Linked DNA regions of Homo sapiens. The protein of the gene in region 1 interacts with the protein of each later gene in a pairwise test. Each region holds a gene or a part of one and is shown in the gene's direction. Other genes may lie near its edges.

What was found.
Region 2: the proteins of CLNK (region 1) and GLIS3 interact in a two-hybrid assay, tested with the Homo sapiens proteins (one large-scale study listed by BioGRID and IntAct).
Region 3: the proteins of CLNK (region 1) and SFMBT1 interact in a two-hybrid assay, tested with the Homo sapiens proteins (one large-scale study listed by BioGRID and IntAct).
Region 4: the proteins of CLNK (region 1) and FAM217A interact in a two-hybrid assay, tested with the Homo sapiens proteins (one large-scale study listed by BioGRID and IntAct).
Region 5: the proteins of CLNK (region 1) and STK36 interact in a two-hybrid assay, tested with the Homo sapiens proteins (one large-scale study listed by BioGRID and IntAct).
Region 6: the proteins of CLNK (region 1) and BMX interact in a two-hybrid assay, tested with the Homo sapiens proteins (one large-scale study listed by BioGRID and IntAct).

What each region holds. Positions count from the first base shown.
Region 1 is NC_000004.12:10,484,592-10,489,331, reverse strand, and holds the end of CLNK (cytokine-dependent hematopoietic cell linker), read left to right. Parts: 3' UTR 1-2,937; downstream 2,938-4,740. UniProt on the Homo sapiens protein: An adapter protein which plays a role in the regulation of immunoreceptor signaling, including PLC-gamma-mediated B-cell antigen receptor (BCR) signaling and FC-epsilon R1-mediated mast cell degranulation.
Region 2 is NC_000009.12:4,296,625-4,302,067, reverse strand, and holds the start of GLIS3 (zinc finger protein GLIS3), read left to right. Parts: upstream 1-1,999; 5' UTR 2,000-2,647; exon of another isoform or gene 2,648-2,767; intron 2,768-3,571; exon of another isoform or gene 3,572-3,788; intron 3,789-5,443. UniProt on the Homo sapiens protein: Acts both as a repressor and an activator of transcription. Binds to the consensus sequence 5'-GACCACCCAC-3'.
Region 3 is NC_000003.12:52,906,099-52,910,901, reverse strand, and holds part of SFMBT1 (scm-like with four MBT domains protein 1), read left to right. Parts: intron 1-3,168; coding exon 3,169-3,347; intron 3,348-3,587; coding exon 3,588-3,833; intron 3,834-4,660; coding exon 4,661-4,789; intron 4,790-4,803. UniProt on the Homo sapiens protein: Histone-binding protein, which is part of various corepressor complexes. Mediates the recruitment of corepressor complexes to target genes, followed by chromatin compaction and repression of transcription.
Region 4 is NC_000006.12:4,075,847-4,081,262, reverse strand, and holds the start of FAM217A (protein FAM217A), read left to right. Parts: upstream 1-2,125; 5' UTR 2,126-2,411; intron 2,412-3,207; exon of another isoform or gene 3,208-3,788; coding exon of another isoform or gene 3,789-3,848; coding exon 3,849-3,908; intron 3,909-4,783; exon of another isoform or gene 4,784-4,874; intron 4,875-5,416.
Region 5 is NC_000002.12:218,688,293-218,693,095, forward strand, and holds part of STK36 (serine/threonine-protein kinase 36), read left to right. Parts: intron 1-404; coding exon 405-584; intron 585-1,566; coding exon 1,567-1,664; intron 1,665-2,157; coding exon 2,158-2,263; intron 2,264-3,850; coding exon 3,851-4,001; intron 4,002-4,290; coding exon 4,291-4,418; intron 4,419-4,803.
Region 6 is NC_000023.11:15,552,807-15,557,019, forward strand, and holds the end of BMX (cytoplasmic tyrosine-protein kinase BMX), read left to right. Parts: intron 1-3,266; coding exon 3,267-3,341; 3' UTR 3,342-3,713; downstream 3,714-4,213. UniProt on the Homo sapiens protein: Non-receptor tyrosine kinase that plays central but diverse modulatory roles in various signaling processes involved in the regulation of actin reorganization, cell migration, cell proliferation and survival, cell adhesion, and apoptosis.

The sequences.
Region 1 (4,740 bases):
AAATTAGTGCTAATTCTTGCAGTAACGTTGCACAGGCCATGATATTATTCCCTGTAGAGGTTAAGAGGATTTAATTTTATTATTGTTTTACAATAAAGATGAGGAAACAGAGGCTCGAAGTAGCTATTGATCTTACTCAATATGAGAAGAGAGCCCAGATTGTAATCTGCTTTGCCTGGCTCCATGCAAGCTCATCTTCCCAGGTACATTCTCTGCGCTGTGACATTTTACAATCAAGTTGAAAAGCTAATTTAAAAAAAAAGAGAGAGAGAGAGAGAAAGATAGAAACAATTTGAAAATACAGATTTACCACCTTAAAATAAATAAACTCTTCTAGTGGGAATAAGCTTTTTTAAAAAACATACTGTCTGTCGAAAATAACAGTATATCATGATGTCAAATGCTACCAAAGCTTACAAAGGAAATTCATAGAGTATTTATGTAATTGTAGCATTGATGCAGAAAGAAAACCAAAAATAATTAAAAGGCAATAGAAGCAAATGAAAACAATAAAAACAATGTGCAGGATTATCTCTTTTGTAAGACAGCAGACAATGAGCTCTCTGGGAAAAGCTCTTAGCATCTACCCACTATCCAAATACCTGCTCAGGTGTTCTCCTTTCACAAGGTCAATGTGAAGTGATGCCTATAAGTTACATCAGGAGCATTTAATGAAGAAGCTATTTGTAAAGCTGGAACTTTTGAGACCCAGCTGAGCCTATCGTAGAGTATGCCTGCAGAGGATTACATAGAACCAAGAGACAAGAGTGTTTAAATTGGAGCTTGGATACGAAAGAACTCACTGGTCCGGTCAAAGCTAAAAGCTGTATGGTTGCTGGTCATTCTCTACTGGAATTCAACAAGCCAGGGACAGTATGGAAACAAGGACTTTACAGAAGAGCTCCAGGCTCACATTAAGAAGGAATCTGACCCTCACCCTAAAAAGCTATTGGGAGATTACTGATACCTCCAACTCACTGATTCATTGAGGCCATGCCATTCAATGCTATGTTCTCAAGAAATGTCTATGAGTCCTCTCAACCATTGCTGTTGATAAAATAGGTGAATGTCAAGTGGGGGTTAGCATTTGATAAGGTGTACGTTTGAAATAATATTTTATCGTCTCTTGTTCACAAATACAACATATAATTCCAAGAAGAAAAAAGAAGTAGAAATTCAGCATCCTTAAGATGACAGCAAGAATGAGGGGAAAAGGAAGAAAAAAAAGAAATTAAACATCTTGCAATAAAAAGCTTACAATATTTTTGTGTATTTGAACACTTCTGTAAAAAATATAAAATGGAAAATACTGACATGGGCTGCTTCTGGTGATTGGGGTTTGAGGGATTGGGTGTCGGGTTTTCTAGAACTCAGACACCAGGACAAAGTTAGAAGTGCAAACACTGATTGGAGGTTAATGTTTGAGAAAGATAAAAGGGAGAAGAAACAGAAGTATGGGTATGGGGTGGGCTTTCAGGCTCCCACCTGTGAGAGGGAAGAGGGGAGGTGTGGGGAGTGAGGAGAAAAAGCATGAGATTCAGACACAGCTCTGGGAGAGTTTTGGCCAGCTCATAGTGAGGCCCAAAGCAAAGTTTGCCCAGAGAGGAGACAGTGTTATGCTGGGCAGTAATGTCTGGGTCTTAGTGCCCCATCCTGTTAAGTCATTGTCTGGGGCTATCCTGGGAAAAAGAAAAACAACAAAAAAAAAAGACCTGCAAATGCTGTGGCCAATCCAGAAGGCGCAGCTGGACGCTGTCCACTAACTTGCTGGCCAGCAAGTTATTTCAATGGAGACTCAAGAGACCCACCTCTGGCCTGCCACAGCAACATCCTGAATTCACTGTTTTCAGTGTTGATTGTAGTAAGGACAATCACATTTACATTTTGCTTGTAATGGATGATTAAATAATAAGAGTATATAAATTCGATTGTATTTGTTTCTTACAACACTTCTGTAAAGAAGAGAGGGCAGCTATTTCTAATGCATTTTATAATTGAGGAAATTGTACCTCATTGGCCAAAATCTCACAGTGACATAGTCGCGACTGGAACCAAGGTCTCCATATGCAATTATCCTATTCATGGTCTACCTGCTTTATTAGATCTGTAATTGAATATTCAATGATTTGGATTTGGCATGCCCAAATTCCAGTGTTTTAATCCCTTTTCAACCATTACCTCACGTTTAGTTTAAAAGTATCACTTGATATCTGATTTCAATAGAGTAATAGAATTTTAGCTTTATCCAATTACAGCATTTATGCTTTCCAGATATTTTTTGGACTAAATAATTCTCATTCTGTATAAATGTGCATAGCCCTCATCATTAGTCATATATTGTGTTAGCACCTTTGTGTACTGCATGTGTATTCATTACTAAGCACTATTGTAGATGTTGAAAATAGAGCAGTGAATAAGAGAGATAGATGACAAATAAATATACAAACAAATAAGATAATCTAAGTCAGTTTCCCATTACTGGATTGGATTTCTATTTTAACACTTATTTCTGAGTACTTGTGGGGTGATGCCAACATTAAATGTTTTGAGGAAGCTCCTTTGAGATGGCTTTGAAAAGTCCTAAGTGAGAAAATTTAAAATTTTCCCAAACTTATTTATGTGGGGTGTGCATGTGTGTGCCTGTGCCTGTGTGCGTGTGTGTGTGTGTGTTTTTAAGTAACCGCATCATGGCTGTAATCAGTTAAGTCTCCTGTTCTAATTACTACGGAGGAATCAAATGAACCCCATTGTCGAATGTAGCCAATTATGTATGTGTGTACACAAATACAAATTTTTATGATAGCCTATATTGTATATTAGCATTATATTTGTATATCTTTTTTATTCTGAGCAATATTTGTTCTAGCTAAGCACATTTACATTCATAATTTACAGCCTTACTAATGTAAATAAAAGTAAATATGTAATTGAATGTTATAATTTTCTCTGTCTCTGAGTATTGAAGAAAGAAATTCAAAACATAGTTTAATTTTGTTTCATGCCCTATTACCCCTAAAGCTCTTTTGAAATTATATTTAGGGCAAATTTAGGATAAAATTACCAGAACAATTATTGACATATGAGCATTATGCTAGACTTTGGAGATAAAGACAAAAAAGACACAATCCCTGTGATTGTGAGCTCAGAGCCTGGCCGGAAAGATACACATGTAATAACCATCTTAATATGTGTAAGTTAATATCTCATTGTGGTTTTGATTTGCTTTTTCCCAATGATTAGTGAAATTGAGCACCTTTTCATATGCCTGTTGGCCATTATCAAAAAACAAAAGATAACAAATGTTGGCAAGAATGTGGACCAATGGAAACCCTGTACATTGTTGGTGGGAATGCCAAATGGTGCAGCCACTATGGAAAACAGTACTGGGTTTCCTTAAAAAATTAAAAATGGAACTATTATATTCAGCAATCCCACTTCTGTATATGTATCCAAAATAAATGAAATCAGGATCTTGAAAAGATATCTGCACACCCATATTCATTGCAGCATTATTCACAATTATTCCAAGATATGGAAACAACCTAAATGTCCATCAAAAATGAATAAATGGGCCAGGGATGGTGGCTCAGGTCTGTAATCCTAGCACTTTGGGAGGCCAAGGTGGGCAGATCACTTGAGGTCAGGAGTTCGAAACCAGCCTGGCCAACATGGTGAAACCCCGTCTCTACTAAAAATACAAAAAAAAAATCAGCTGGGCATGGTGGTGGGTGCTTGTGATCCCAGCTGCTCGGGAGGACGACACAGGAGAATCACTTGAGCTCGGGAGGTGGAGGTTGCAGTGAACTGAGATCATGCCACTGTACCCCAGCCTGGGAGACAGAGCAAGACACTGTCTCAAAAAAGAAAAAAAAAATGAATGAATCAATGAATGAACAAAATATGTTATATACATACAACGGAGTATTATTCAGCCTCAATAAAGAAGGAAATCTTGGCATATGTGACAAGGTGGATGAATCTGGAGGACATCATGCTAAGTGACATAGCCAGGCACAGAATGACAAATACTGCATGACTCCACTTATATGAGAAATCTGAAATAAACTCACAGGGACAGAGAATAGAATAGTTGTTGCCAGGAGCTGTGGGGAGAGGGAAATGGAGAGTTGTTGTTCAATGGGTATAAAGTTTCAGTTATACTAGGTGAATAAGTACTAGAGAGCTGCTGTATAGCATTGTGCCTATGGTCAACGAAAATGTATTACCTACTTAAAATTTTTTTAAGAATGTAGATTTCATGTTAATCATGTTAAGTGTTCTTACCACAAAAAGGGAGATGGGGCAGCAGGAAATGTTTGGAGGTGATAGATATGTTTATTGCCTTGAGTGTGATGATGGTGTTATGGATGTATGTGTATCTCGAAACTCATTAAATTAGATACATTAAATATGTCCAGTTTTTTAATATACCAATTATACCTCAATGAAGCTGTTTTATTTTTATTTTTATTTATTTTTTGTGAGACTGAGTCTCGCTCTGTCACCCAGGCTAGAGTACAGTGGCGCGATCTCGGCTCACTGCAAGCTCCGCATCCCGGGTTCACGCCATTCTCCTGCCTCAGGCTCCCAAGTAGCTGGGACTACAGGTGCCCACCACCGTGCCCAGCTAATTTTTTTTGTATTTTTAGTAGAGACAGGGTTTCACCATGTTGGCCAGGATGGTCTCAATCTCTTGACCTCGTGATCCACCCGCCTTGGCCTCCCAAAGTGCTGGGATTA
Region 2 (5,443 bases), on another chromosome or scaffold:
AACTGCATTTTTACTATAACCCATGGAATATAAGAACATTGCAGATCTACATTCTTGGCCAGAAAAAAAAAAAAAGAAAAAAATTCAACCAAAGCACTATACCTCTTCAGTGGTAAATATTTTAGGAATGTTAGAGGTTCATGAAAATCACACCTAAATAAAATGACATTCCCACTCTTGGGCTCTTATAAATGAAGAGATTTTGGGGATCTCCAGGTTGATGACTCCTAACTTTCCCAGTGTTTTTTTCCATGAGCTATTGATTAAAGTTGGGTGTAGCACTATATTTTTTTCTCTTCCAGCTAAGCTGTTCCCATCATTTGGGAAGTTTTAGAAGCTTCTGCAAGCCCCTAGGATACCATTCTATGCATCAAAACCATTGTATTTAAAATGATATTTGAGGGACATTGGAAAGGTTTTTTGCAGTCTCCACCCAGGCTTGTCTTGCTCCTGGGAAGCAGTTGTACAGCACAAGAATCTGATGAACAGAAGTTCCCATGATGCATTGAAGGGTTAGTGTTGCCATCTTGCTCTGTTCCTTAAGGCTGGAGTTAATGAGGAAGAGTTTTTATGTGAATGTCAGGCATGTTGCAATAACTAGCCACAATGGAATAGTCATGGCAATTTCCACCACTTGGTTTCTTTGTTTTTGTGATGTTGCTGCATGCTTCATTTTATGAGTATTTTCTTTTCTTACGTGTGGTTGAGCCCATCTATTGCCATCTTGGGCTTGAATACTTGTATTTAAAAGAGATGAACAGAGAGAAACTGGAAAACTGACAGAATGACATATCCTGACCTCTTACTATTTTTCATCCCCTACTTCTGCTGACAAATATTCTGATGAGTTTGTGTCCCAAGGTGAAGGAAAAGAAAAGAAAAAGTACTGTGGAAACCAGGCTTCTTTTGGTTATGTTAATATCATGGATACAGACCAAGCCTAGTAGTATTCCCACTGAAATTAGATAAATGAAAACTGCCAATAGTCTTTTAGTTTTGGCTTTCTGGGGTAAGTCATTTGTGTCCTTGAGGACTTCTGTCTTGATCAAAGCATCTACTACCTGATTGCTAATTTATATTGGAGTGGTAACAGTAGAATAGAATATAAGGACTTGTGAAATTCTAAGTGTCTGGTGGCATCCTCACTCATTTCATTCATGATGGTGAATAATACTGTCAACTGCAGAAAGGCCTACCTGGAGGATATTGTGTGCATTACATACCTAGATTCCCAAGATGGAAGTCCTTGCATCTGTGGCAATACATGTGATGAACTACTAGGAGCAGACTTTCTTGTAACAACCTTTTGAGGGCTCTGGTCAACACAAGCAGAAGCGGTGGCGAGTCAGAGCTTAGGTGGGGTATGAGGCTGAGGATGTTGAATTCATAAGGATAAAGTGCCACTTTATAGACGTAACATACGCAGGGAATATACCTCCATTCTTAACAGCCTGTGTTCAGAATTTTATACCCTTCTAACACTTCCATCACCTTCCTCTCTTCCCTGCCTATACTTGGAAAGGATGCCAAAGCCTTCCTTAGTGCTTCACCTATCCAGTTTCGAAGCTGTCATGTGCATCCGATCCGATATTTCAAAGCAACCCTTTTGCCATTTTTCACTGTGTTATTCTCTCCGTATTACTACCGGATTTTTTTGGTTGTTTGTTTATTTTTTTATGACCTGACATCAAATCCTGTCTAAACACTAACACTTTTTCATGTTAAAATAAGTCAGTTTAACAAATAAGGCCAGGAAGAAGGCGAAGTGTCTCCCTGCTGTTACCCTGTTCTGGAGTTCCTCGACTTCTGGCGCACGGGGAGTGTGTGTGTGTGTGTGTGTGTGTGTGTGTGTGTGTGTGAATGCGTCAAGAGGGAGACACAAGCTCGGCCTTCGAATTGGCCAGCCTAGTGACCCGCGAGCCCGCCCCCACTCTTCCCCCTCCCCCTCCGGCGCTCACACTCAGGAAGCAGCTGGCTACAGGCCGGCCCTCGCGGCCGCACACACATCCACACTCCTCGCCCGGCTGCCTTCCTCCCTCCCTCTTCCCCCTTCCCCTCTCCCTGCAGCCGCGTCCACACTGCGCCGCCCGGGCAGCCCAGAGCGCGGCGCGCACGGGCACCGGCGGCGAGTGCCGCGGCCACTGCCCCTCCCGGGACCCCCTGTACGCCGTCCGCGCCGTCCAGGGTCACACCGGCGACGGAACCCGCCGGCAGCAATTAGCCAGCATCCCGGGGTCGGCCCCCAGAAGCATTCCCCGGCCCAGGACGAGGATGAACAGGACAGGCGAGGCACAAAGTCGCAACTGAACTTTTTAGAAACATTATTTGTGTGTGTATGTGTGTAGCAGGGGAGAATGAGCTGATGCCGAGGGTCCAGCCACCCCGCCTCTGCCTCCTCCTCCCCCTGCCGCCGCTGCCCTCGCAGACGCGCGCGCACACACGGCACTTGGGCCGGGTTTCCGCGCTCCGTCCCCCCGTTTGGATGGGGGTTTTCATTTCCGAAGGAGGCACAGCCCGCGGAGCGCTCTGAAGGGCTGGAGCCCCAAGTTACTCCTCGCCAGCGCCGGCCGCCCGCTGTCACTCGCGCTGGCCGGCCGGGGGAAGGGACCCGCACGCCGGGCTTTGTTGTGGAAATCCCGGTTACCTGGTAAGTGGATGCCATAGGAACTTTGCTCGCAGGCGAGAGACGAGGAGAAACCGGGCGCTTGAGAGTGTGGGGGAGTTAAAGCTCAGAGACGCAAACTAGGGATTACAAATAGTTTTCTACGCTGAGCCGGTGGCGTTCGCGCGGGTTTAAGGATACGCGCACCTCAACTCCCGGCGTCACAGGTCACTGAGAGACCTGCGCTGACTGAGACTGATAGCAACAATTAGGGTTCAAACCATGTTTCTGTCAGTGGCCTAAGAGCGCCCAGTGTAGAAGACAGATAACGGGGCTTTAAAGTTGCGCTAATTCGGAACAGTTTTTGTGTTTTCATTTCAAGTAGAGCGGGCAGAGGGGTACACAATCAGGGCACGTTACAGGACGCACGGGCATGGGGCGCACCACTCTGGAGTCCCCACTGAAGGGAAACTTTGGCGAAGTGGGAACTGATGGGGTGACGTGAGGTCTCTCGCGCACACGCGGGGCTGTAGTTGTCTTTTCAAGTTCCACGTGTTTGTGGAGTTTCACGAAGGCTGTTTTCCACGCCTGTGTCTCATCCAAGCCGGTGTCCCCATGATTGCGGGAGGTGGTCGGGCTGAGGGTACCTACACTCCTCGCGGGTACCGGCCCGGCGATCCGCAGCCGCCAGGTCTGGAACTATAACCTCCCACGCCGCCAGGACGCAGACACAGCCAGACACGAACCCTCCCCGCCGGGTTCGTCACCTCGCGTTTACATTTTTTATGGGGCCCGACAAAATGTCAGCACTGTTTGGAAAATGTCTCAGTCTCGGAGACGTTGTCCTGCGCGCGGCTCCAGTCCCTATAAATGACCCTGTGTGTATTTTGAAGTCGGCCCGGGTCGCTCTCTGGAAAGCGTGAGTGAGCCGCCGGCTCTCTCCTAGACACACACCTTGCCCCGAGCGACAGTTCCAAGTTACTCACTGGAGCTGACAAGTCACCTCGGGGACCGGGAAGTCACTCAAGTGTCTGGAAATCTTGGCCCTGGCTGATTTGTCATCCTATGGATGATTCAATTAGGTACCTGGCGGGAGAAACTTTGGGGAAGGGTTTCTGGCTCCGCGTTCGCGCCCTCCGACTTGCTGGAGGTGTTTGGGAGGCGAGAAGCGAAAGGAAACCACAGGGTGAGGACACTGGCTCGGCGGGGACCGGGGGGCCGGCGTGGGGGGACTGCGAGCCCGGCCGTGGCGCCCCCGGGCTACAGGCTCCGGCCAGGCCGGGCAGCGCGCGCAGGTCCCCGGCGCCCGGGCTTCCCAGCCGCAGCACCCTTTCGGCCCCCGACTCACTCAGGAGCGAGTTGCACAACAGGAAGCCGGCACTAGTTTGTTTTGTTGCGCTGCGTTCGCTCCCTCGCTCGCTCGCGCACGGGGCCGAGGGTTAGGGGCGGAGGCGGCGGGGGAGTGACGGGGTCGCAGCCGCGCGTACCCCGCCGGGCGCTGTCGCCTCCGCCTCCGGACCCGCCCCTAGCTCCGCGCCGAGGAATCTCCGACCCCGGCAGCGAAGCCAGTCCTATAGGGAACCGATAAGGGCCGCCCTCCTCCTGCCTTGTCCTACGCGCCTCTCCCCCGCTCCCGGCACCTCTCCCGACTTCTCCAGCCCTCCTCTTGGCAGGAGTGGTCTCGAGGACTGAGACCACTGCTCTGTGTGCCTCCTTGAGCCCCACGCTAGTTTGCCCCGGTATCCGCTTGGCCCTCATCTCTGGAGCATGTAAACCTGGGGAAGGGGTAGGGAGGTGCTTCCGGAATCACAGGGAGTAGGGTCCGTAGAGACAGGACTCGTGGAGTCGCGGCCCCGTTTCACAAAGAGGGTTGCTCTTGCACCCTCTCCCCGAGCCGGCAGAACCAACTTCCTCCAAGACTTCAGCATCTCCCGAGAGTTGGGGCCCCAGGGCCCTGGAGTTTGTGAGAAGAGGGAAGTTCTGCAGCTCCCCCCAGTGGACCAGGTCCCTTTAGTATGGGGCCGGGAATCTCGAGGAGAGACTATTAAAGCTAGAGTGGACCCTGGCTTCACCTGATGAGGAAACCGAGCCCCAGAGACGTTAGAGGTTTTGCCCAAGGCCTCACAGCCAGTTGTCGCAGACCCTTAAAGTTCTCAGGTCCCGGTTAAGAGAGCATTTCTTGGCTCGAAGATGACCTCAAGACAAATGCAAAGTCTGGTTCTGTCCCCTCTGAAAGCTTTGATGAGTCATGATTTCTGCCTTGGGAGTAAGCCAGACTTCTGTTTCACCCTCTGTCTTGTTCCTCACTGGACCTCCCTTTTTAGACTAAACTTTTTTTTTTTTTTGGGTACAAAATCGACTTGTGTTGGTTTAAACCTTCCTACTTCTTCTCTTTTATCTCCTCCTAGTTTGTTTCCGCTGGTTCTGTGTGAAGCAGGTGCAACCTGTAAAGGTTTGCAGAAAAAGAATCCGCCACGATGAAGGTCGTTCTGAGAAAGTTTGAAGCAATTTAGACAGGAGAGTGTTAGATTATATGCATTTTTTTTTTTTTTTTTTTTTTTTGCAATTGAGAACAAGCTGAGGTGTAAGGATCATCTATAACCGTACTGCAGTTTTCATTTATTTTCACTGGTCATCTGCGCAGCCAGACTAGCTCTGAGGCTACCTTTGAAAGGAAGTGTAGGGGACATTTTTTTTTCGCTATTTTCAAAACACCTGTCCTTATTGGTAGTTTGTAATTGCTTTCTTTTCTTGCCCAGAAGACTCAGTAATCCTTGAGTATGAGTAGATCAATTTAAGTGCTGCTGTTAACTTCTCCCCTTGGTTCACCTTAGGCCAGTT
Region 3 (4,803 bases), on another chromosome or scaffold:
CGAACTTCTTCTGTAAAGGGCCAGATGATAAATATTTCATGTTGTGGGTCATATGCTTTCTGTCACATATTCTTTTTCTATGTGTTGTGTTTTCATTTTTTAAGAACCCTTTTGGCCGGGTGTGGTGGCTCATGCCTGTAATCCCAGCACTTTGGGAGGCCGAGGCAGGCGGATCACTTGAGGTCAGGAGTTCGAGACCAGTCTGGCCAACATGGTGAAACCCCGTCTCTACTAAAAATAGAAAAACTAGCTGGGTGTGGTGGCACCTGCCCGTAATCCCAGCTGCTTGGGAGGCTGAGGCAGGAGAATCACTTGAAAGCGGGAGATGAAGGTTGCAGTGAGCTGAGATTGCGCCACTGCACTCCAGCCTGGGTGACAAAACGAGACTCTGTGTCTCCAAAAAAAAAGAACCCTTTAAAAAATGTAAGGGTAATTTTTGGCTTGGGGGCTATACCAAAACAGGTCATGGGCCAGACTTGACTCATGGGCTTTAGTGTGCCAACTTTTATATATAGCATGTATATAAATTAGTTATTGTATCTAATAGGATATGTAATTCATTCATACAATCTGCAAGTATATATTTTGTGCTCATTGTGTGCTTATGCTGCTCTAGCACTGGGATACAACAATAAAGAAAACAAATTCCTATCCTCAGTGAGTTTACCTTTAATGTGGGAGACAGATAACAAACAAGGGAAGAAATTTAGAGAGGGGTCAGTATTTAGAGAAATACTGTGGGGAACAGTGAAGCAAGGTGGGCAAGCAAAATAGGACAGTGAGGAAGGCTGGGAGGTGGGGTGCTGTTTATGCAAGGGGTCAGGGAAGTCTTTCTGACAGGTAACACCTTGAAGGAAACAGGAGCCAGCTGTGCAGAGAGCTGGGTGGGAGTGTTCTGGGGAGGGGGCATCAAGGGCACAGGCTTGAGGCAGAAGCTTGCTTAGTGTCTCTGAAGAGCAGCAATGAAGCCACACTAGTTGGGGAGGTGGAAATAGGAGAGGAGGTAGTTGCAACCTCACCTTGAACTGTCATAGCACCTATTCGCTGTCCTTGCTTATCTTCTTTGAGAAACTGGGGCAGGGGTCACATAGGATGAAATTTACAATTTGGAGCCTTGTCAAGGCATTGCCACCCAAAGACAAAATTCTGATCCTACCTTTCCTTAAATCCTACAAGCCCTATGTCACTTGGGAGAATCACTACAGAGGAGGATTTTTACCTTGTTAAAATGGAAAGATTTCTTTTAGGGATCTGTGCCTCTTAAACTATAGTGCATGCAGATCACTGAAGGATCTTGTTAAAATGGAGCTTCTGATGTATCAGGTCTGTGGGTATCTGGGTCCTGAGTATCTATCTGCATTTCCAACAAGTTCCCAGATGCCACTGATGCTATTGATCCAAGGTCCATACTTAGTATGACGAGCTTTCTAATCAGTATTTAAATTACAAAATCTTATAAGTCTAACCTTCTAGTTTCTATTTATATTTATTGGATTGTAAACTCCTTAAGAGTAGGAATTATCTTAGCTTCTTGTATCAGACTCAGCACTTAGTTTAGGAAACTGCAATTATTAGGAGCTGAGTGAAAAATACTATTCATGTAAATGCATATATAAGCACACTACTCTGAAGGAAGATATGTGAGGGGAAGATATGTGGATTTTATTGTGCCTTTTGTCTGAATTTATCTTTCACAATAATATAGTTGAAATTAGCCTAGAATTTAGAAGGACAGTTATAATTTTTCCCAGTTAGTAATTTGAATGATGTCAAATGGATTCGTATCCTTTAGAAAATTTCCATTTTTTTCACAAAATTGTATTATATTTTGATATTACTTTAATACATAACTCAGCTAGAATATGTATGTTTCATTTCTGGAATGTATATTCTAAAATTTATATGAAAATGCAGAGGATCTAGAATAGCTGAAACAATTTGGAAAAAAGAATAAAGTTGGAAGACTTAGTCTCTCTCTTTTTTTAACCATAAAGTTATAATAATCAAGAGTGTGGCATTAAAGAATAGTCAAGCCGGGTGCGGTGGCTCACACCTGTAGTCCCAGCACTTTGGGAGGCCGAGGCAGGCAGATCACCTGAGGTCAGGAGTTCAAGACCAGCCTGACCAACATGGTGAAACCCCGTCTCTAGTGAAAATACACAAATTAGCTGGGCGTGTGGTGGCAGACGCCTGTAGTCCCAGCTACTCAGGAGGCTGAGGCAGGAGAATCACATGAACCCAGGCGGTGGAGGTTGCAGTGAGCCAAGATCACGCCACTGCACTCCAGCCTGGGTGACAGACTCTGTCTCAAAAAAATAGAACAATGGGACAGACCACAGGGTCCAGAAATAGAGCCAAACTTAACATGGTTAAATGATTTTCAACAAGAGAGATGAAGAAATTTAAGGGAGAAAGGAAATTCTTTTTAACAAATAGCACTGGTACAACCAGATATCCAAATAGAAAAGAAACATATAATAAAACACACGACTCAAAAACATTATGCCTAGTAGAAGAAGTCACACATGGCTGCTGGACGTGGTGGCTCATGCCTGTAATCCCAGCACTTTGGGAGGCCAAGGCGGGCAGATCATGAGGTCAAGAGATTGAAACCATCCTGGCCAACATGGTGAAACCCCGTCTCTACTAAAAGTATAAAAATTAGCCGGGCATGGTGGTGTGTGCCTGTAATCCCAGCTACTCAGGAGGCTGAGGCAGATGAATTGCTTGAACCTGGGAGGCAGAGGTTGCAGTGAGCCGAGATCGTGCCACTCCACTCCAGCCTGGCGACAGAGCAAGACTCCATCTCAAAAAAAAAAAAAAAAAAAAGTCACACACAAAAAAGTGCTTACTGTGTGGTTCCATAGAGGCAAAGCTAATCTATAGTGATAGTGTTTAGAATAGTGGCTGCTTCTAGTAAGGGGTACTGACTGGGAAGGGACCATGGGAGCTTTCTGGGTTGAAGATGTTCTATATACTTTGATATGGAGGGATCATTCAGTACTAGTCAAACCGTGCACTTCAGATCTGTTTATTCCACTCTATGGAATTTAAACCCCAATCAAATACAATGTACCTGTTTTTTGCTATGCTAATAAAATCTCTTGTGGTTTTGAGGTACACAAAAATAATGAAGCTACTTCATTTTTCTTTGTCATCCACATTTAGCACACTATTACGGAAAGAAGAAAAATAAAAGAATTGGGAGGCCACCTGGTGGGCATAGTAACTTAGCTTGTGCCCTGAAAAAAGCCAGTAAGAGGAGAAAGAGGCGGAAAAATGTTTTTGTTCATAAGAAGAAACGCTCCTCTGCATCTGTTGATAATACCCCAGCGGGCTCTCCCCAGGTATGAGATCTGTGATGTGCCTGTAATGTCTTGAAGCCAAGTGACCACTGCTTTATAGTATGGACACAGAATACCTGCAGGTCTTTCTAACTCAGATCTCTGGCCAATAGAAGATGGTTTTGTGGCCCAAGAACTGGTTTGTCCTGAATTTCTTTTCTTTCTTTATTATTTTTTTTTAATCATATGAAACCTGGGATTGATGTCCTGAATTTCAATGAGACTTCTCTCCTTTTCCTGCAGGGAAGTGGGGGTGAAGATGAGGATGACCCAGATGAAGGGGATGATGATTCCCTAAGTGAAGGCAGTACATCCGAGCAGCAGGATGAGCTACAGGAAGAATCAGAAATGTCAGAAAAAAAGTCATGCTCCTCTTCTCCCACCCAAAGTGAGATATCCACATCGCTGCCTCCAGATAGACAAAGGAGAAAAAGGGAGCTTCGCACCTTTTCATTTTCTGACGATGAAAATAAACCTCCTTCACCAAAGGTACCATTTAAAAAATAGTTTCTTTTTTCTTTCTTTCTCTCTGGAATTTCCATCTGGAATATGATTATTAGTGATATTGACATTCTACTTCTTTCAATACAGACTTATGTAGAATTTCCAGGGTCTCTTGTAAAGTGACCCCAAATGCAGTGATTTACATGTGTTTCAAGGATTAGTTGAGATCATCTACTTATAGGGGGAAAGTCTCTCTCAGAGTAGCTGCTTGTTTTAACAACAACAACAAAAAAAGCCCCATTGCTAGCTTATTTGTAGCTTGTCATTTATTTTTGGGAAAACTGCCTTTTTAATATGTTTCATAATATATATGGTTTTGTAGAAAAAAGTTATCCTTTTGATTCTGGTTAAGCCATTTGGCTTAATATATTATTTACTATATACATATGAACATTTTATAACATATGTATAACACTAAAGAACAATTTAGTGTTCAAAAACTAGATTGCTTTTTAAGAATATTCCATGAACAGAAGCAGTAAAGATTCCTCCTGGTAGTTTAGTTAAGCCTTCTCTCAATGGAATTATCATCCCCTTCTCTTCAGCACCCTGTTTTTCTTAGTTAAATTGTCTAAATTATCTGTGCTGGAACTTTGAGATAAATTCTTTCCCATTGATACTTCGTATTATAAAAGACAGACATTTCCTGAGTACCTGATGCACGTGGGTCTTTGCCATCTTTGCTGGGAGAAATCATGTCCTAAGACCACTTTAAATCATGTCTTGAAAGATTATGAATTTAGGTAGAGAGACTTTTTTAGAATAAAATAGCCGTAACACCATTTGGTTTGATTGTGTTGTGGGGAATGAAGGAAATAAGGATCGAAGTTGCTGAAAGGCTTCACCTGGACAGTAACCCCTTGAAGTGGAGTGTGGCAGACGTTGTGCGGTTCATCAGATCCACTGACTGTGCTCCATTAGCAAGAATATTCCTAGACCAGGTAATCACAGATAC
Region 4 (5,416 bases), on another chromosome or scaffold:
CTGCTTCATTGGATTATCAGGCATATACATTGGTTAATCCATATAAAATGTTCAGCACTATGCCTGGCATATAGTCACCACACCATACATTTCAGAAAATACTATTTTTGCAATAATTAAATCAATTGAAACATTTATTGAGTGCCTTACCTACTACAGTACATGCCAGGCACTCTGTTAGATAGAATATGGGCAGATATCACCTTCAAGGTGTTGAAAAGAAAGTGATTGAGACGTTGTAAATGAATAATTACAATGTAACTGAGTAAGGGGCTGTAATTAAATCATTATAACGAAGCAAGGATCTTGGAGGAGACAGCAACTTTTGTTTTCTCTCCTTTTTTTTTTTTTGTATTTTTTCTAGTAATTACACTTCCTGAACAATCAGGAAAAATGACTTGTGAGTTAGAAGTGTAATGACTAGAATTTAGGCAGGTTAAAAAAGAAAAGGAGATAAAAAGGAGGTACTATTACAGGAAGAGTAACAATGATGTATGCCCTGGAGGAGAGTGTTTAGGAAAATTGTAAAATGTCCGATGTGCTTGACATGTAGTGGGCGCTGGGAAGGTGATGAGCAGATACCTAAGGGATGGCTGCAGAATTAGGGTTTCCTCCTTCCGGCATTAGGAGGCAGTTGAGCAGGTCTGTATTTTAGAGCAGCAGTATGGAAAACAGCCGAAGGAAGAGAGGGCCCTAGAAGGGAAACCTCCAAGGAGGCTGCAAGGAATGAGGCCTGCACAAATCTTGTTCGTTCACTTACATCGATTGTGCTTCTACCACTGTGCTTCTACTATGTGCCCAGCACAGTTTTAAAGGGTTGGGGATACAGAAATGAACTAGACAGACAAGGCCCCGGCCCACATGGAGTTTGATATTCTACTGGGGAGAGACAGACAATACAAAAACAAACAAGTAAACAGCAAGATTATGAGGAGTACAAAGAAGTAAATAACAACGGGGTGTCATGAAATAGAGTAAGGTAGGTGGAAGGTGGGAAGAGCTTCTTTAAAGGGAAGGTCTTTCTGAGGAGAAAATGGAAATGCAGAGGAAAGAGTCAGGAGTCAGGGATCAAAGAACCTGAGAAACCCCTGACATTGTTTTCAACATGTGGTATATAAGTGCATTTTTATGGGGAGATTCTCAGAGGGACATGGCCGTGATCTCATCCCCCCAAATGTTTAGTATTCATTTGCTGTACCTAAATATATAATTAATTTTGTTTTAAATTTTTCTCTATATCAAAAGGTGGGGGTGATGATAGCTATGCAGATATATCTAACTAGATAGAGAGAGATTCTTCCCCCACCCCTCCACTTATTTCATGAAGCTGTAATAGGAGATATGCATTTCGGGGTACAAAATTGGGCTGTGTGATTTACATGTATCCTCTACATGAAAAAAGAAAAAAAATCATCTTTTGTTTTTCCTATTGAAAGGCCGACGACGGACCTGAAACTGACCGGATGAGCTTGGTGTCAACAAGGATGCCTCTTCTTCTATGTTAATATATTGTACAAGCATAGATATAACTTCACATGTATCAATGCGTATATATTGTAGCTTAGTCTGGAGGACTACGTACCGGGCGGTGCTCCTGGCTTGATGTGAGCAGGCGGTGGGAATGGAGGGTGGAGGCGGGTGGGCCGGGCCCCGGGTCCCAGAGGCCCACTGGCCATGTCGCGGAGAGCTCAGCCTGGAGAGGCCCAGGGAAGGGCCTGGAGGCCTCGGGGAAGGCCTGGGGAGGGTCAAGGAAGCCCGAGGAGGCCCAGGAAGGCCGAAGAAGGTCCAGGACGCCTGGGGGAAAGTCCGAGAAGGCCCGAGAAGGCCCGGGAGGCTCAGGCTTTCCCGCGAGGCCGGGGGCGGCCCCTTCAGGCCAGGATGGCCGAGTGGGCTGCGCAGCCCCGCGGGGGAGGCCGGGCGGGGCGCAGGGACAGGGCCTGAGGCTTGTTGTCCTCCCCTGGCGGCCCCGTGCGTCCCGCGGGCCCGGCGGCCGGGTGACCCCCGAGAGGCTCCGCGCCTGGGCGGCCGGCGGCGACCCCGCGGCCCGCGAATACGCGTGGACCTTGTGGAACGCCGGGCCTCCCCGGGCGCCCCCGCTCTCTGGTAGTTGCCGGGAGACCCGGCCGGTGGGGAAGCCCGCGGAGCCGCAGCCCCGGCCCCGGAAGGTCTCTCTGGGCCCCGGGCCCGACTCCCACCCCTGCGCCGGCCCGCGGGCTTCGCAGGCCCTGCACTGCCGACCGGGCTGCGCTCAAGGCCGCCAGCCGCCCGCCGCCCTCTTTGTCCCCCCGCTGCAGGAAGGCCGCGGCAGAGGGGGCGCCCTCCAAGCCGTCAGCCACGCACGCGGAGGCGCTCGGGCCTCGGGGCGGCGCACCGGGAGAGCACGCCGGGGAGGACACGTGGGCCTTCGCGCGGTGGGTTGAGAGCCCCGGCCCCGGGGAATCCCGCAGCCCCCTCCTGCTACCCCTGGAACTGGGCTCCCCACCCAGTCCGGCCACAGCTCAGGAGGAAAAGGGGATTCCTCTTCACGGGGGCCTTGCGGCTCCCTTGAGACACGCGCCTTCAAGCACTCTGGCCCCTAAAGCTCCTGTCCCCCAACTCGCAGTCCCCAAGGCGTCCTTTGTCCCCAGGGCCGTCCTTCAGGTGCGGTGGCCTTTTCCAGGAGCTGGATGCCCTCCTTCTTGACACACACCCGGTGGCCCCAGGCAGCGCCACCTGCTCAGCAACCGCCTTCCTCCTGCATTCAGACCTAGTGTCTGGCATGCACACACTCGTGGACCAATAACCGGTGTTGGCTGAAAACCTACCTAAACTAAATCTCCTATTTCTTCATACACTTTTCTGTAGGAGACAATCAATTGTAAACGATTAGCAGATAGACCGATTACTGCGGTGGCTTTAATTTGTGATTCTTGGCCGGGTGCAGTGGATCACGCCTGTAATCCCAGCACTTTGGGAGACTGAGGCAGGTGGATCACGAGGTCAGGAGTTCAAGACCAGCCTGGCCAACATGGTGAAACCCCATCTCTACTAAAAATATAAAAATTAGCTGGGCGTAGTGGTGCTCGCCTGTAATCCCAGCTGCTCGGGAGGCTGAGGCAGGAGAATCGCTTGAACCCGGGAGGCGGAGGTTGCAGTGAACCGAGATCGCGCCACTGCACTCCAGTCTGGGCAACAGAGCGAGACTCTGTCTCAAAAAAAAAAAAAAAAAAAAAAGTGATTCTTTCCAGATAGCCATACCTTAATCCAGTGACTGTTTTGCTTGTTACCTTAGAGTTCTCTAATTCTTTTACCTTAAACGGCAGTGGGTTAAAACCCTTTAGGTACCTTGATTGATTGGTGCGGAAAATATTGTTTGGTCCTGGGGGCATTTTGTTGTCTCCGAAATATGCACGGGGTGCTTGCCTGGCCTAGTTGTAAGGGTTCAACCCTGCTTTCAAATGGAGCAATTGTTTTGAATGAATAAAAGGAGACTTTGTGCCCCTGTTTTCTAAGTTCCAGATAATTCACCATAGTTTGTTCCAATGTGTATTTCATCTTCTTAGCTGATATTTGCTTTCTCACCTCTGATCTCAATTTCCTAATCTTCTGTTCTGAGATCTGCCAGTTTGCTGTTGTCTGTGCTCCTTTTGAGTCAGGCTTGCCCCTTGCTTCTGGTTGGTTTCGTACTGTCACCCCCACCCTGCTCTCCTAGCCCCTCTCTTCTGCTTTCTAAGCATTCTCTTACCTCCTTTAGATGGGAAATCAAAACTCACACTTTCTTTTTTATAAATGTTGACCCTTACCCATAAATGTGCCTATCCCGCAATCTGTGTAGGATTTTAAGGAAACAGAGCAACAGCTACAACAAAATGGGGAGAAGAAATGAGAACTGTGCTAACAGCCTACGTGTGTCAAACATCTCTCAGGAGGTATGGCAGGCGCTGTTGAACTTGAGTGTTTGGGCAGCGGCTCCTGTTGCTAACACGTAACTCCCATGGAGTTTTCTTGTAGTGATGCCCTTGCTGCGTTTGCATCGTGGGCAGTTTATCCTGTGTTTTCCTTTTGGCACATTTGGAACAGCAAATGGAAATTTTCTATTTCTTTTAACAAAGGGAAAATTAGCCAGCTCTTCTCCAAATGTCAAACATTTCTAATTGCAATTTGGCTTTGTTAAAGGTGCTGCCTTGTTATCAACCAGGCAGTGCTCACTTCTTTTGTTTTCACACACACACCCTTTGTGAAAAATATTGGTAAGGCAGGTGGGATATCACAAAGCATAATCAAGTCCCAACTCTTAAGAAATTTGCAAACTGTCAGACTTCATGTTTAGTTAATGAGCATTCTTTACCAGTTGATCAATTTGGTTATGTTAATTTTTTGTTGTTTTGGTGTTTTTTGTTTGTTTGTTTTGGAGACGAGACTTAGTCTTCCTCTGTCTCCCAGGCTGGAGTGCTGTGGCACGATCTCAACTCACTATAACCCCCACCTCCCGGGTTCAAGCGATTCTCCTGCCTCAGCCTCCCGAGTAGCTGGGACTACAGGCATGTGCCACCACGCCCGGCTAATTTTTGTATTTTTAGTAGCGACATGTTGGCCAGGCTGGTCTTGAACTCCTGACCTCAAGTGATCCACCCGCCTTGGCTTTCCAAAGTGCTGGGATTACAGGTGTGAGCTACCATGCCTGGCCTGGTTTCATTAATTTTATTTTAGAATTGCAACAACACAGTTTCATCAGCTGAGGATATTTCTCTCACGTGCATTTCATACAAAAGTATCAGGATTATATAGCTGAAAAAAGCTTAAAAATCCACCAGACATCGTAAAAAAGTCTGAAGGGGTGCATCTCACACATGAACATAAAAACCCAGTCATCGTGCTGTGAACTACAAAAGGATCTTTAAAATACAAATAACTGGGCCTCACCCTCATTCTTTTTTTTTTTTTTCTTTTTTTTTGAGACGGAGTCTCACTCTGTCACCCAGGGTGGAGTGCAGTGGTGCTATCGTGGCTCACTGCAACTTCTGCGTCTCGGATTCAAGTGATTCTCCTGCCTCAGCCTCCCAAGTAGCTGGGATTACAGGCACCCACCACCACGCCCAGCTAATTTTTGTATTTTTAGTAGAAATGGGGTTTCGACATGTTGGCCAGGCTGGTCTAGAGCTCCTGACTTGAGGTGATCTGCCCGCCTCGGCCTCCCAAAATGCTGGGATTACTGCCACTTGAGCCACTGCGCCCGGCCCTCACCCTCATTCTTTAAAATCAGGATTTGCAGCATTTTTTTGCAACTATTATTTTTAAAAAGCTCCCCAGGTGATTCTCATGTAGAGATTAGCCCTTGTACATATCATGCCAGAGAGCAGAGAATTAATTTTATTAATTATATTTTTCATAAATCTATAGAGAATGATAATCTGCAGTCTCCCTTCCAATGTTCAAC
Region 5 (4,803 bases), on another chromosome or scaffold:
ATGTTGTTTTGTCTTTCTGTGGTTAAATAATATTGTTTTATATGCATTGTTTTGAATTTTCAGAAGCATGTGCGGTGCACGTGTTTTTTGTTTTTAAGGTGAAGGGCTGGAGAAGGGAGGGAGCAGATGGGAATGGCACTTAGTCTGACAGAGATCCTGAGGAGAGGCCCCTATCCGTTGGTCACTGGTGTTCTGTGTTAGGTAACCTGACCATCTATTGTCTTCTTCCCTGGTACAGTTCCCCTATTTCCCTGCTTTCCTTCTCTGTGTTTTAGACTTGCAAAGAAAGGAATGCAAGCATGTGGTCTGCTTTCCCAGCTCCTTGGGGATGCTTGGTATGTGTAGTTCTCCTTCTTTTACCTCTGAAAATATCAATCGTTGCCTCTTTCCCTCATGTCACCCAGATCCTGAAAGGCATCTTGGAGGGTGCTTCCCACATCCTGCCTGCATTCCGGGTCCTGAGCAGTCTTCTCTCCAGCTGCAGTGATTCTGTTGCCTTGTATTCCTTCTGCCGGGAGGCAGGGCTTCCTGGGCTGCTGCTGAGTCTACTCAGGCACAGTCAGGAGAGCAACAGCCTCCAGCAGGTAAGCACCAGGCCAGAAGCCTCTGAAGACTTACAGAGGTTCTTTTTCTTGGATTTATCTCATTCAGATTGCCATCTCTCTTTGGTCTGACTGCCTTTTATTTTCTTTCCTCCTCTTTCTAGTTAGTAGACTATTAATTGCAAACTCTAATGCCTTCTGGGGCCAGGCAGATAAGGTCTGCCATGAAGTAGGCTATGCATGTGACTATATGAGTTGTGGGGAATATGATGAACTAGAGTTCACATGCCTCCTCTAAATAGAGTAGAGGCATCCTTTCCTCAGCCTCCAGCCCATTGTTGCCACAGGGAAATATGGGCCTGAGAAAACTAGCCAGATCTTCTAGTTTTCTAAGAAAAGGTAGAAACCCAAATTTTTATGTGTAATTTTTAAATATTTAGAGCGCTGTGCTTTGAAATGTTAGATCCTAGGCTTCATTGACCTGATCTTACAGAGCAGAGTACTAAAATTCAGAGGTAACTCATACACAGTCACTAATTTGTAAATGGTCACAGAGATAACAAGTGGAAGAGCTGGGATAGAGACTCAATGTGTTTGGGGCCAAACCTCTACTTCCCCCTGCTGTGTCCTACGGTAGCTGGACTGAGAGGATGGGGAATGTTTCAGAGTCAGTGTAAATGCCTAATAGGGCCTAGGATGAGGCAGCTGGAAAGCTGCACTTTGTTGATGAGTATTAATCTTGGGTGATTTTAAGGAATTTAGAGAAAAAGATTTTTGAAAAATAGAACCTCCTATACTCCAAAATGCTATTCAGGCCAAACAAGACACATTTAATCCAGGCTGTTCACAGCCCATTGGCAGATTCTCTGTTACCCCTAGAACTCTCTCTCTGCCTATACTTCTCTTCTGTCCCTTTCTGTTTGATCAACTTGACTGGGTCTCTATACACCCTTTCTACTGTTTTTTCTATTCTTTGTTTCCATCCTTCACATTGCCCTTACTCTCTTCTCCTTTTCCTGGGCAGCAATCTTGGTATGGGACCTTCTTACAGGACCTGATGGCTGTGATTCAGGCCTACTTTGCCTGTACCTTCAATCTGGAGAGGAGCCAGACAAGTGACAGGTAGGATAAGAAGTGCTTTTGCATTGTTGGCAAGTTTGGCTTCTGTTTCTACCCCAAGTGCCCTTCCCATTTAGGAACAGGCCAAGTATGAAGAAGCTGTGATTTGTTACAGGTTTAGGAATCAGCTGAGTGGCCACTCATAGTCCTTTTAAGGACCCTAAGACAGCTCCAACTTGGCCTCAAGACTTACAGTTTCTAAGAGTCAGCAGTCACCATGGTCCTAAAATGGAAGGGTCAAGATGTGAATAACCTATTCCAGGAAGCCAATTGGATTAAAGAAAGAAAGAAAGAAAAAAAATATGCGAATAACCTAGAGAAAATGGCAAAGAAGGGGCTTGGAGGGTGTATGTGTGTGTGTGGCAAGGGAGAAGGGAGGAACATTCTGATGTGTCCCTTTGCAGAGATTCTCCTACCTGCCCAGGACTGACCCATTCACCACATCCAGGCTTTTAGTAGAGAGATAAGAAATCATGGGCTCATTTTCCACCCCCAGCCTGCAGGTGTTTCAGGAGGCTGCCAACCTTTTTCTGGACCTGTTGGGGAAACTGCTGGCCCAACCAGATGACTCTGAGCAGACTTTGCGGAGGGACAGCCTTATGGTAATCTGCTCCCACTTCCAGATTTCTGTGTCTCCTATCATTCTCCGTGTTTCTCCCATCCCCTTTCTTATGACTATGTAGGGTCAGATCAAGTTAATATGACAAACATTTGTTAAATTCCCACCATGCCATATGCCATGTGAGTAAGAAAAAGTGCCTGCCTTCAAGGGACTAGGGATAATTTAATAGGGGAGAGGTAAAGGGATTAAGGACAACAGTGAAAAGTACATTAGAACTTTGCATATAATACAAGAGCACTGCTGTATTTTATGAAGAAGATGCAGTTAACCACTGCAGAAGATGCACTTAACACTATTTGGAGTATCATAGAAGAAATCTCGAAGAAGGAAATCATCTCTGCTAGCATTTGAAGAATACATCGCAGTTTGCCACGTAAATGAGGCACAAAGTAGAAATTCTATACAGAAAGAGTAACATATATAAAGGCCCAGAGGCTTTAAGCAGTTTGGCATATTTCAGGGGACCACAAATAGAACGACTTCTTCTTGAAAAGACTTGCAGATCATCTAGTATTGTCTAACCTCGTTTGTCCTGAGGATTAGTAGACTATGCAGTTCTTTTCCCTAGATCCTGGAGGTAAGGGACAGGAGAATGGAGGATTGAATGAGAAAATAGCTGTGTTCTGACTAACCTCAGAGGAGATAGAGAGGAACATATATTTGTAAGGAAGTAAATAATTGCCTGGTCATTGTTAAAACTGGTAATTGGGAACATAGATCTGGACTACTACTTGCCTTTAGCTAGCATTCACTCAGACTTTCCTGGTCTGAGATCCTGTTTTAATATCCCTCACCCTTTCAAGTCAGAAAGCTTTTACTGTCTAACCTAAATTTTGGCCAGCAGTGACTCATGCTATTGGCCAGCACTTCTCATGTCATATGCTATGAATAGAATGGGGAGTTTGGAATAATTACCTCCTGAAATTCTGAATCAGTAGGACTGAGTTGGGAGGGACCCAGGAATCCCTAGGATTTCTTCTTTTCTTTCCTTTTTTTTTTGGAGACAGGGTCTCTCTGTCACCCAGGCTAGAGTGCAGTGGCATGATCTTGACTCACTGCAACCTCCACCCTCCGGGCTCAAGCAATCCTCCCATCTCGGCCTCTTGAGTAGCTGAGACTATGGGTGCACACCACCAGACCTGGCTATTTTTTTTGGATTTTTAGTAGAGACAGGGTTTTGCCATGTTGCCCAGGTTGGTCTCAAACTTCTGAGCTCAAGTGATCCACCTGCCTCGGCCTCCCAATCCCCTGTTGGGATTACAGGCATGAGCCATTGCACCTGACCCCTAGGAATTCTTATACTCACAGTCTATAAAAAATACTTTGAGAAACATCATCTAGGGAGCATCTGATCAGAGAATAGAAGGATTGACACCTAAAATTATTGTCCTTGAAGCATGAATGAAAGCAGTTCTAATGCATTTTTGGTGTGAAGAATGCTTAAAATTAGACATGTGTTTGCTTTGGTTTTTGTCCTCTTTCCTCAGATCCTCAGGGTTTTCTTGTTTTTTACACTAAGCCCAGTCTTCTGATGCCCTGATGCTACCTCTGCACTTCTCTCCTTTAGTGCTTTACTGTCCTGTGCGAAGCCATGGATGGGAACAGCCGGGCCATCTCCAAAGCCTTTTACTCCAGCTTGCTGACGACACAGCAGGTTGTCTTGGATGGGCTCCTTCATGGCTTGACAGTTCCACAGCTCCCTGTCCACACTCCCCAAGGTAACCAGAGTGGAGAAGGGAGGTTCTCTTGACTTACTTGTTGCATAGGTCAGGCTCCGCTCTTTCTATTGCCATCACCTAGATCGCACCTGGCATTTAGTAGGTGCTCAATAAATAACTGTGAACTGAGAGAATGAATGGGGATCTGAGGGAAACAAACAGACCTCATCCTGCATTCTTCCCACTCCCTTAGGTTCCCTACTCCTGCTGCCATGTCGGTGAGTACTGGTGCTATTGTCTAGGGCAAGAGCCTCAGGCCTTTGGAGTTACTCTTTGCTTTTCTCCACAGGAGCCCCGCAAGTGAGCCAGCCACTGCGAGAGCAGAGTGAGGATATACCTGGAGCCATTTCCTCTGCCCTGGCAGCCATATGCACTGCTCCTGTGGGACTGCCCGACTGCTGGGATGCCAAGGAGCAGGTCCGAGCTACAATTGGTTGTTCCTCTCATCCTACTGCCAGAGGAATTGAGGAGGCTAGCCCCAGTTTTTCAGAAAGGCAGAAAAACAAGCTTTTAAGCCCCTCCTTTAGTACTTCCAGAAACAGATGCTCCCACCCTGGGCCATTTGTAGAACATGATATAGCCAGAATCCCAGAGCCCATGGCCAGTTGGTGAGGGAGAGAGCACAGTGATAAACTGCCCAGATGGTGGGGCAGCTGATCTGAAGCCTCCAGTGATGCTTCCTCAAGGGCTGAGAATTCAGCTTTCCTGATCCCTGTTGGTCGGTAATCCTTTCCTCTGTACCTGGCTACACTGGGGCCAAACTAGGCCATGACTTTTGGTTCTCTATTGGTGATGAAGACTG
Region 6 (4,213 bases), on another chromosome or scaffold:
CAAAATAAGATTTAGTTGTATTTTGTTTTCTCACAGCCACCACAAGACTGAACAAAATATTTTCTGTTTGGGCATTCTGAGGAAGCTGTATTACAGTTAACTGTTAATGCTGTGTGAGTTTAGAAAAAGTCTTGATAGTAAATCTAACTTTTAACACAGTTAGTGCATGAACTGAGTAGTTAAACATTTCCGTATTCAGACAGGAATAGTGGAAAAGGTATCTTAGGTGCGTTACTCAATCCAAATGTGACTGAATCATTACAGTGGACCCTCATGGTGCATTGAAAAGAAACTGTTTTATATCCAGGTTTCAGAGGACCTGGATAAATAAAAGCTTTGGATTTTGCATTCAGTGTAGTTAGTTGGATTTTGGGACCTTTGCCTCAATGTTAGCTACTGGGATTGGCATATGTGTTCACAGGCAGAGTAGTTGATCTCACACAACGAGTGCTCTCACAAAACTGGTGTAAGTTTCTTATGCTGATGAGCCCCCGCTTTTTTTTAATTTGGTGCCTACAACTTTGTTACAATGATTGTACTTGCTGGGCTATCAAGTTACAATGCTCTTGGTCTTTTTTGCTGCTGTTTCGCTATTTGTCCTTACACCTAGGCCAAGTACCAATGTTAGCTGTTGGAAGGGATTCTGTTTATTCATTCAACATGCAACTATCTAACTTTAGGGAATGGAAGGAAGTTCATTTTTAAGTTGTGTGTTGTCAGTAGGTGCAGTGTCTAGGGTAGCGAATCCTGTAAGTTCAAATTTATGATTAGGTGACAAATTGACATTGAGATTGTCCTTTTCCCTGATTAAAAAATGAATAAAGGCTTTTTAAAGAAACAAACAAACAAAAATATTGTGTCTAAGATTATCAGGCAGCACTAGAGGGTCAGACTGGGTCTGGGTAGAGTTGGTCACAGCCAGGCTGACTTACTGCTGTCACCTGTCAGATGAAGAAGAGCAGACAAGGGTTTTTCAGTTGAAGCCCAGAACCTCCCTGGCCCTCCCTACTCTAGCTCCTGGGAATATGACTGCACCATAGGATGGACAGGGGCCCTGAGTCGGGAGGAACTGCCTTCTTCTCATGGTTGGTTCATAAAAGCATGTGAATTGTGGCAGAATCTGTGAAGAGGGGTTTGCACTGAGACGACAATATCCAGTTAAAACATTGCACCTAATGAGCAGAGCTTATAGATTTGGGTTTTCCCTCCTTTTTTAGATTTTATTTTGTGACTTTCTCAATTCATAAAGAGATTGAAAGAACATTCACAATTTTCATTAGATTTTGATTCATCCTTCTGGTATTTCTGTATGCAAAAACAAGCATATGTATAGATGTGTGTTTTCTTGCTTCCCTTTCTCTCTTACAAAGAAAAAGTAGCATATGAACTTCTCCTCTCCATAGGCGTTGCCTCACTAGCAATGTAAGAGGGTACCTATTTTCTTATAACCTCACCAATGGAGTGCATTGTCAAGCTTTTGAAGAATTCTTGCCAATCTGATAAGTGAAAGCTTGATGGCATCTTAGTGCAGCTTTAATATATATATCTTTCATTATGAGGTTGAGCCTCTTTTCACGTTTTTAAGGGTCATTTTGTGTCTTTCTGAACTGTCATGTCTTTTTTCTTTTTTCTGTCAGGTTTTAAAGATCTCTTTACAAATTAGGGAGAGTAATACTTTAAGTTATCAGCTTTATTTGATTGAGGGTGGGTGGGTTTTTTTTTCTTTTTTTGACCATGCAGAAATTTTTCTTAATATAGCTGAATATATCAATATTTGTTTTCATTGCTTCTGGAAATTGTCATAGATAGGCTTTCTCATGCCCAAATTATAATGACTTTTGCCAGGATTTTCCTCTAGTACTTTTAAGATTGCATTATTTTCCATTTATGTTTCTGATATAGTTTGTGTTTGTTATGGTATATGGTATTAAATATGGCTCCAAATATATAATTTTATGTGACTATTCTGTTGTTGGCAGCCCTATTTATTAAAAGACCATCTTATCATCAGGAATGAGATACCACCTTAATGGTGGTGAAATGCCACCCTAATATTATACTAAATTTCCATATGTACTTGAATCTATTTGGAGACTTCCTCTTCTGTTCTTTGGTCTCTTTGTTCATGTGCTAGCACCACACTGCTCTGATTCTGTAGAGACTTTATGATATGTTTGAATACTAGGTAGGCTAGCACCCCTCATTGCTCACCTTACTGTATAATTTCTTAGCCATTTTTACATATTTTTTAATTCTATAAACCAAAGAATCAATTTGTTTAGCTTGAAACAAACTCATTCATATTTTTGAGGAGATTGTATTTAGTTTGTATTTTAAGTTGGGAAATTTGACATCTTTATGATACTGACTTGTCCTAGTCTAGAACGAGGGAAGCTTTTTTTTTTTTTTTTTTTTTTTTTAAGACAGAGTCTTGCTCTATCACTCAGGCTGGAATGCAGTGGTATGATCTAGGCCTACTGCAACCTCCACCTTCCAGGCTTAAGTGATTTTCATGTCCCACCCTCCCGAGTAGCTTGGACTACAGTTGTGCACAACCACAGCTGGCTAATTTTTGTATTTTTAGTAGAGACAGGGTTTCGCCATGTTGTTCAGGATGGTCTCGAACTCCTGGCCTCAAGTGATCCACTCACCTCAGCCTCCCAGAGTGCTGGGATTACAGGCGTGAGCCACTGCGCCTGGCCAGGGATGCTTTTTTATATAGTCAAGTCTACATTTGCATTTTTCAGCAGTGTTTTAAAGTCGTCCCCATTTTAGAGGGGCACACTTTTTTAGTGTTTTATTTTGGTGGCGTTGCTATTATAAATGGGGTTTTCTCTTACATGATAACTTCTAAGTGGTTACTGTAGGTATATGTGAAGGCTATTGATTTTGTATGTTAATTTTATATCCTGCTCTCCTAGTGAATTCCTTTATTCTTTAAGTCTGTTCTAACATTGATACTCTCAGATTTTCCAGGTATACACTAAAATGCTTGCAAATAAAGAGACTTTTTCTTTTCCAGTTATTGGGGCTCTAATTGTTCTTGCTTTCCAATTGCATTGGTTAACACCTTCAACATAATGTTAAGAGTGATTATTATAGTGAGCGTCCTTGCCTTATTTCTGACCTCAATTGAAATGTCTGTTGTGTTTCCACATTTTAAAAGTTGCTAGCTTTAGGACTTAGATGTAAATATTTTATATATTTTATCATTGATCATAACTCTCATCATCTAAAACATTGGGTTTCTTGTTGTTTTTGTTTAGCTTCCAGAAAAGCGTCCCACATTTCAGCAACTCCTGTCTTCCATTGAACCACTTCGGGAAAAAGACAAGCATTGAAGAAGAAATTAGGAGTGCTGATAAGAATGAATATAGATGCTGGCCAGCATTTTCATTCATTTTAAGGAAAGTAGCAAGGCATAATGTAATTTAGCTAGTTTTTAATAGTGTTCTCTGTATTGTCTATTATTTAGAAATGAACAAGGCAGGAAACAAAAGATTCCCTTGAAATTTAGATCAAATTAGTAATTTTGTTTATGCTGCTCCTGATATAACACTTTCCAGCCTATAGCAGAAGCACATTTTCAGACTGCAATATAGAGACTGTGTTCATGTGTAAAGACTGAGCAGAACTGAAAAATTACTTATTGGATATTCATTCTTTTCTTTATATTGTCATTGTCACAACAATTAAATATACTACCAAGTACAGAAATGTGGACATTTGTCTTAATATTTCAATGTTTTCAAACTTCAGTAGGCATGATAATCAAATGCAGAGTTTATGAAAAGATTCCTAGAAACTACCTCCATAAAACCTGGCGGAGGAGGTCTGAGTGCAGCCTGTGAATTTGTATTTTTAGCAAACTCCCAGATGTTACTGAAGCAGTTGTTCTGAACTGCCCTAGGGGACCTCATTATATGGTGGGGTATCATTAGGTGGTCCATTACCCAATCCAAATGGCACAATTCTCGTCTAATATCCAGATTAGTACAATGACTCTTTATGTCATGTATAAAACTAAAGTTAAATAATATTAAATAATACATTAAATATGTTCACATAAAGCAAATTTTTTAAGATGCTGAGGTACAATTTCTAGAATTAATTACATTGTTGCTTTCTAATCATCTTTTTTTTTTATATAAGTAGACAGTTTATTTGGGTCAAGTTTAAGGATTATAACCTGGGAGCAAAGACTCAAGTTGCC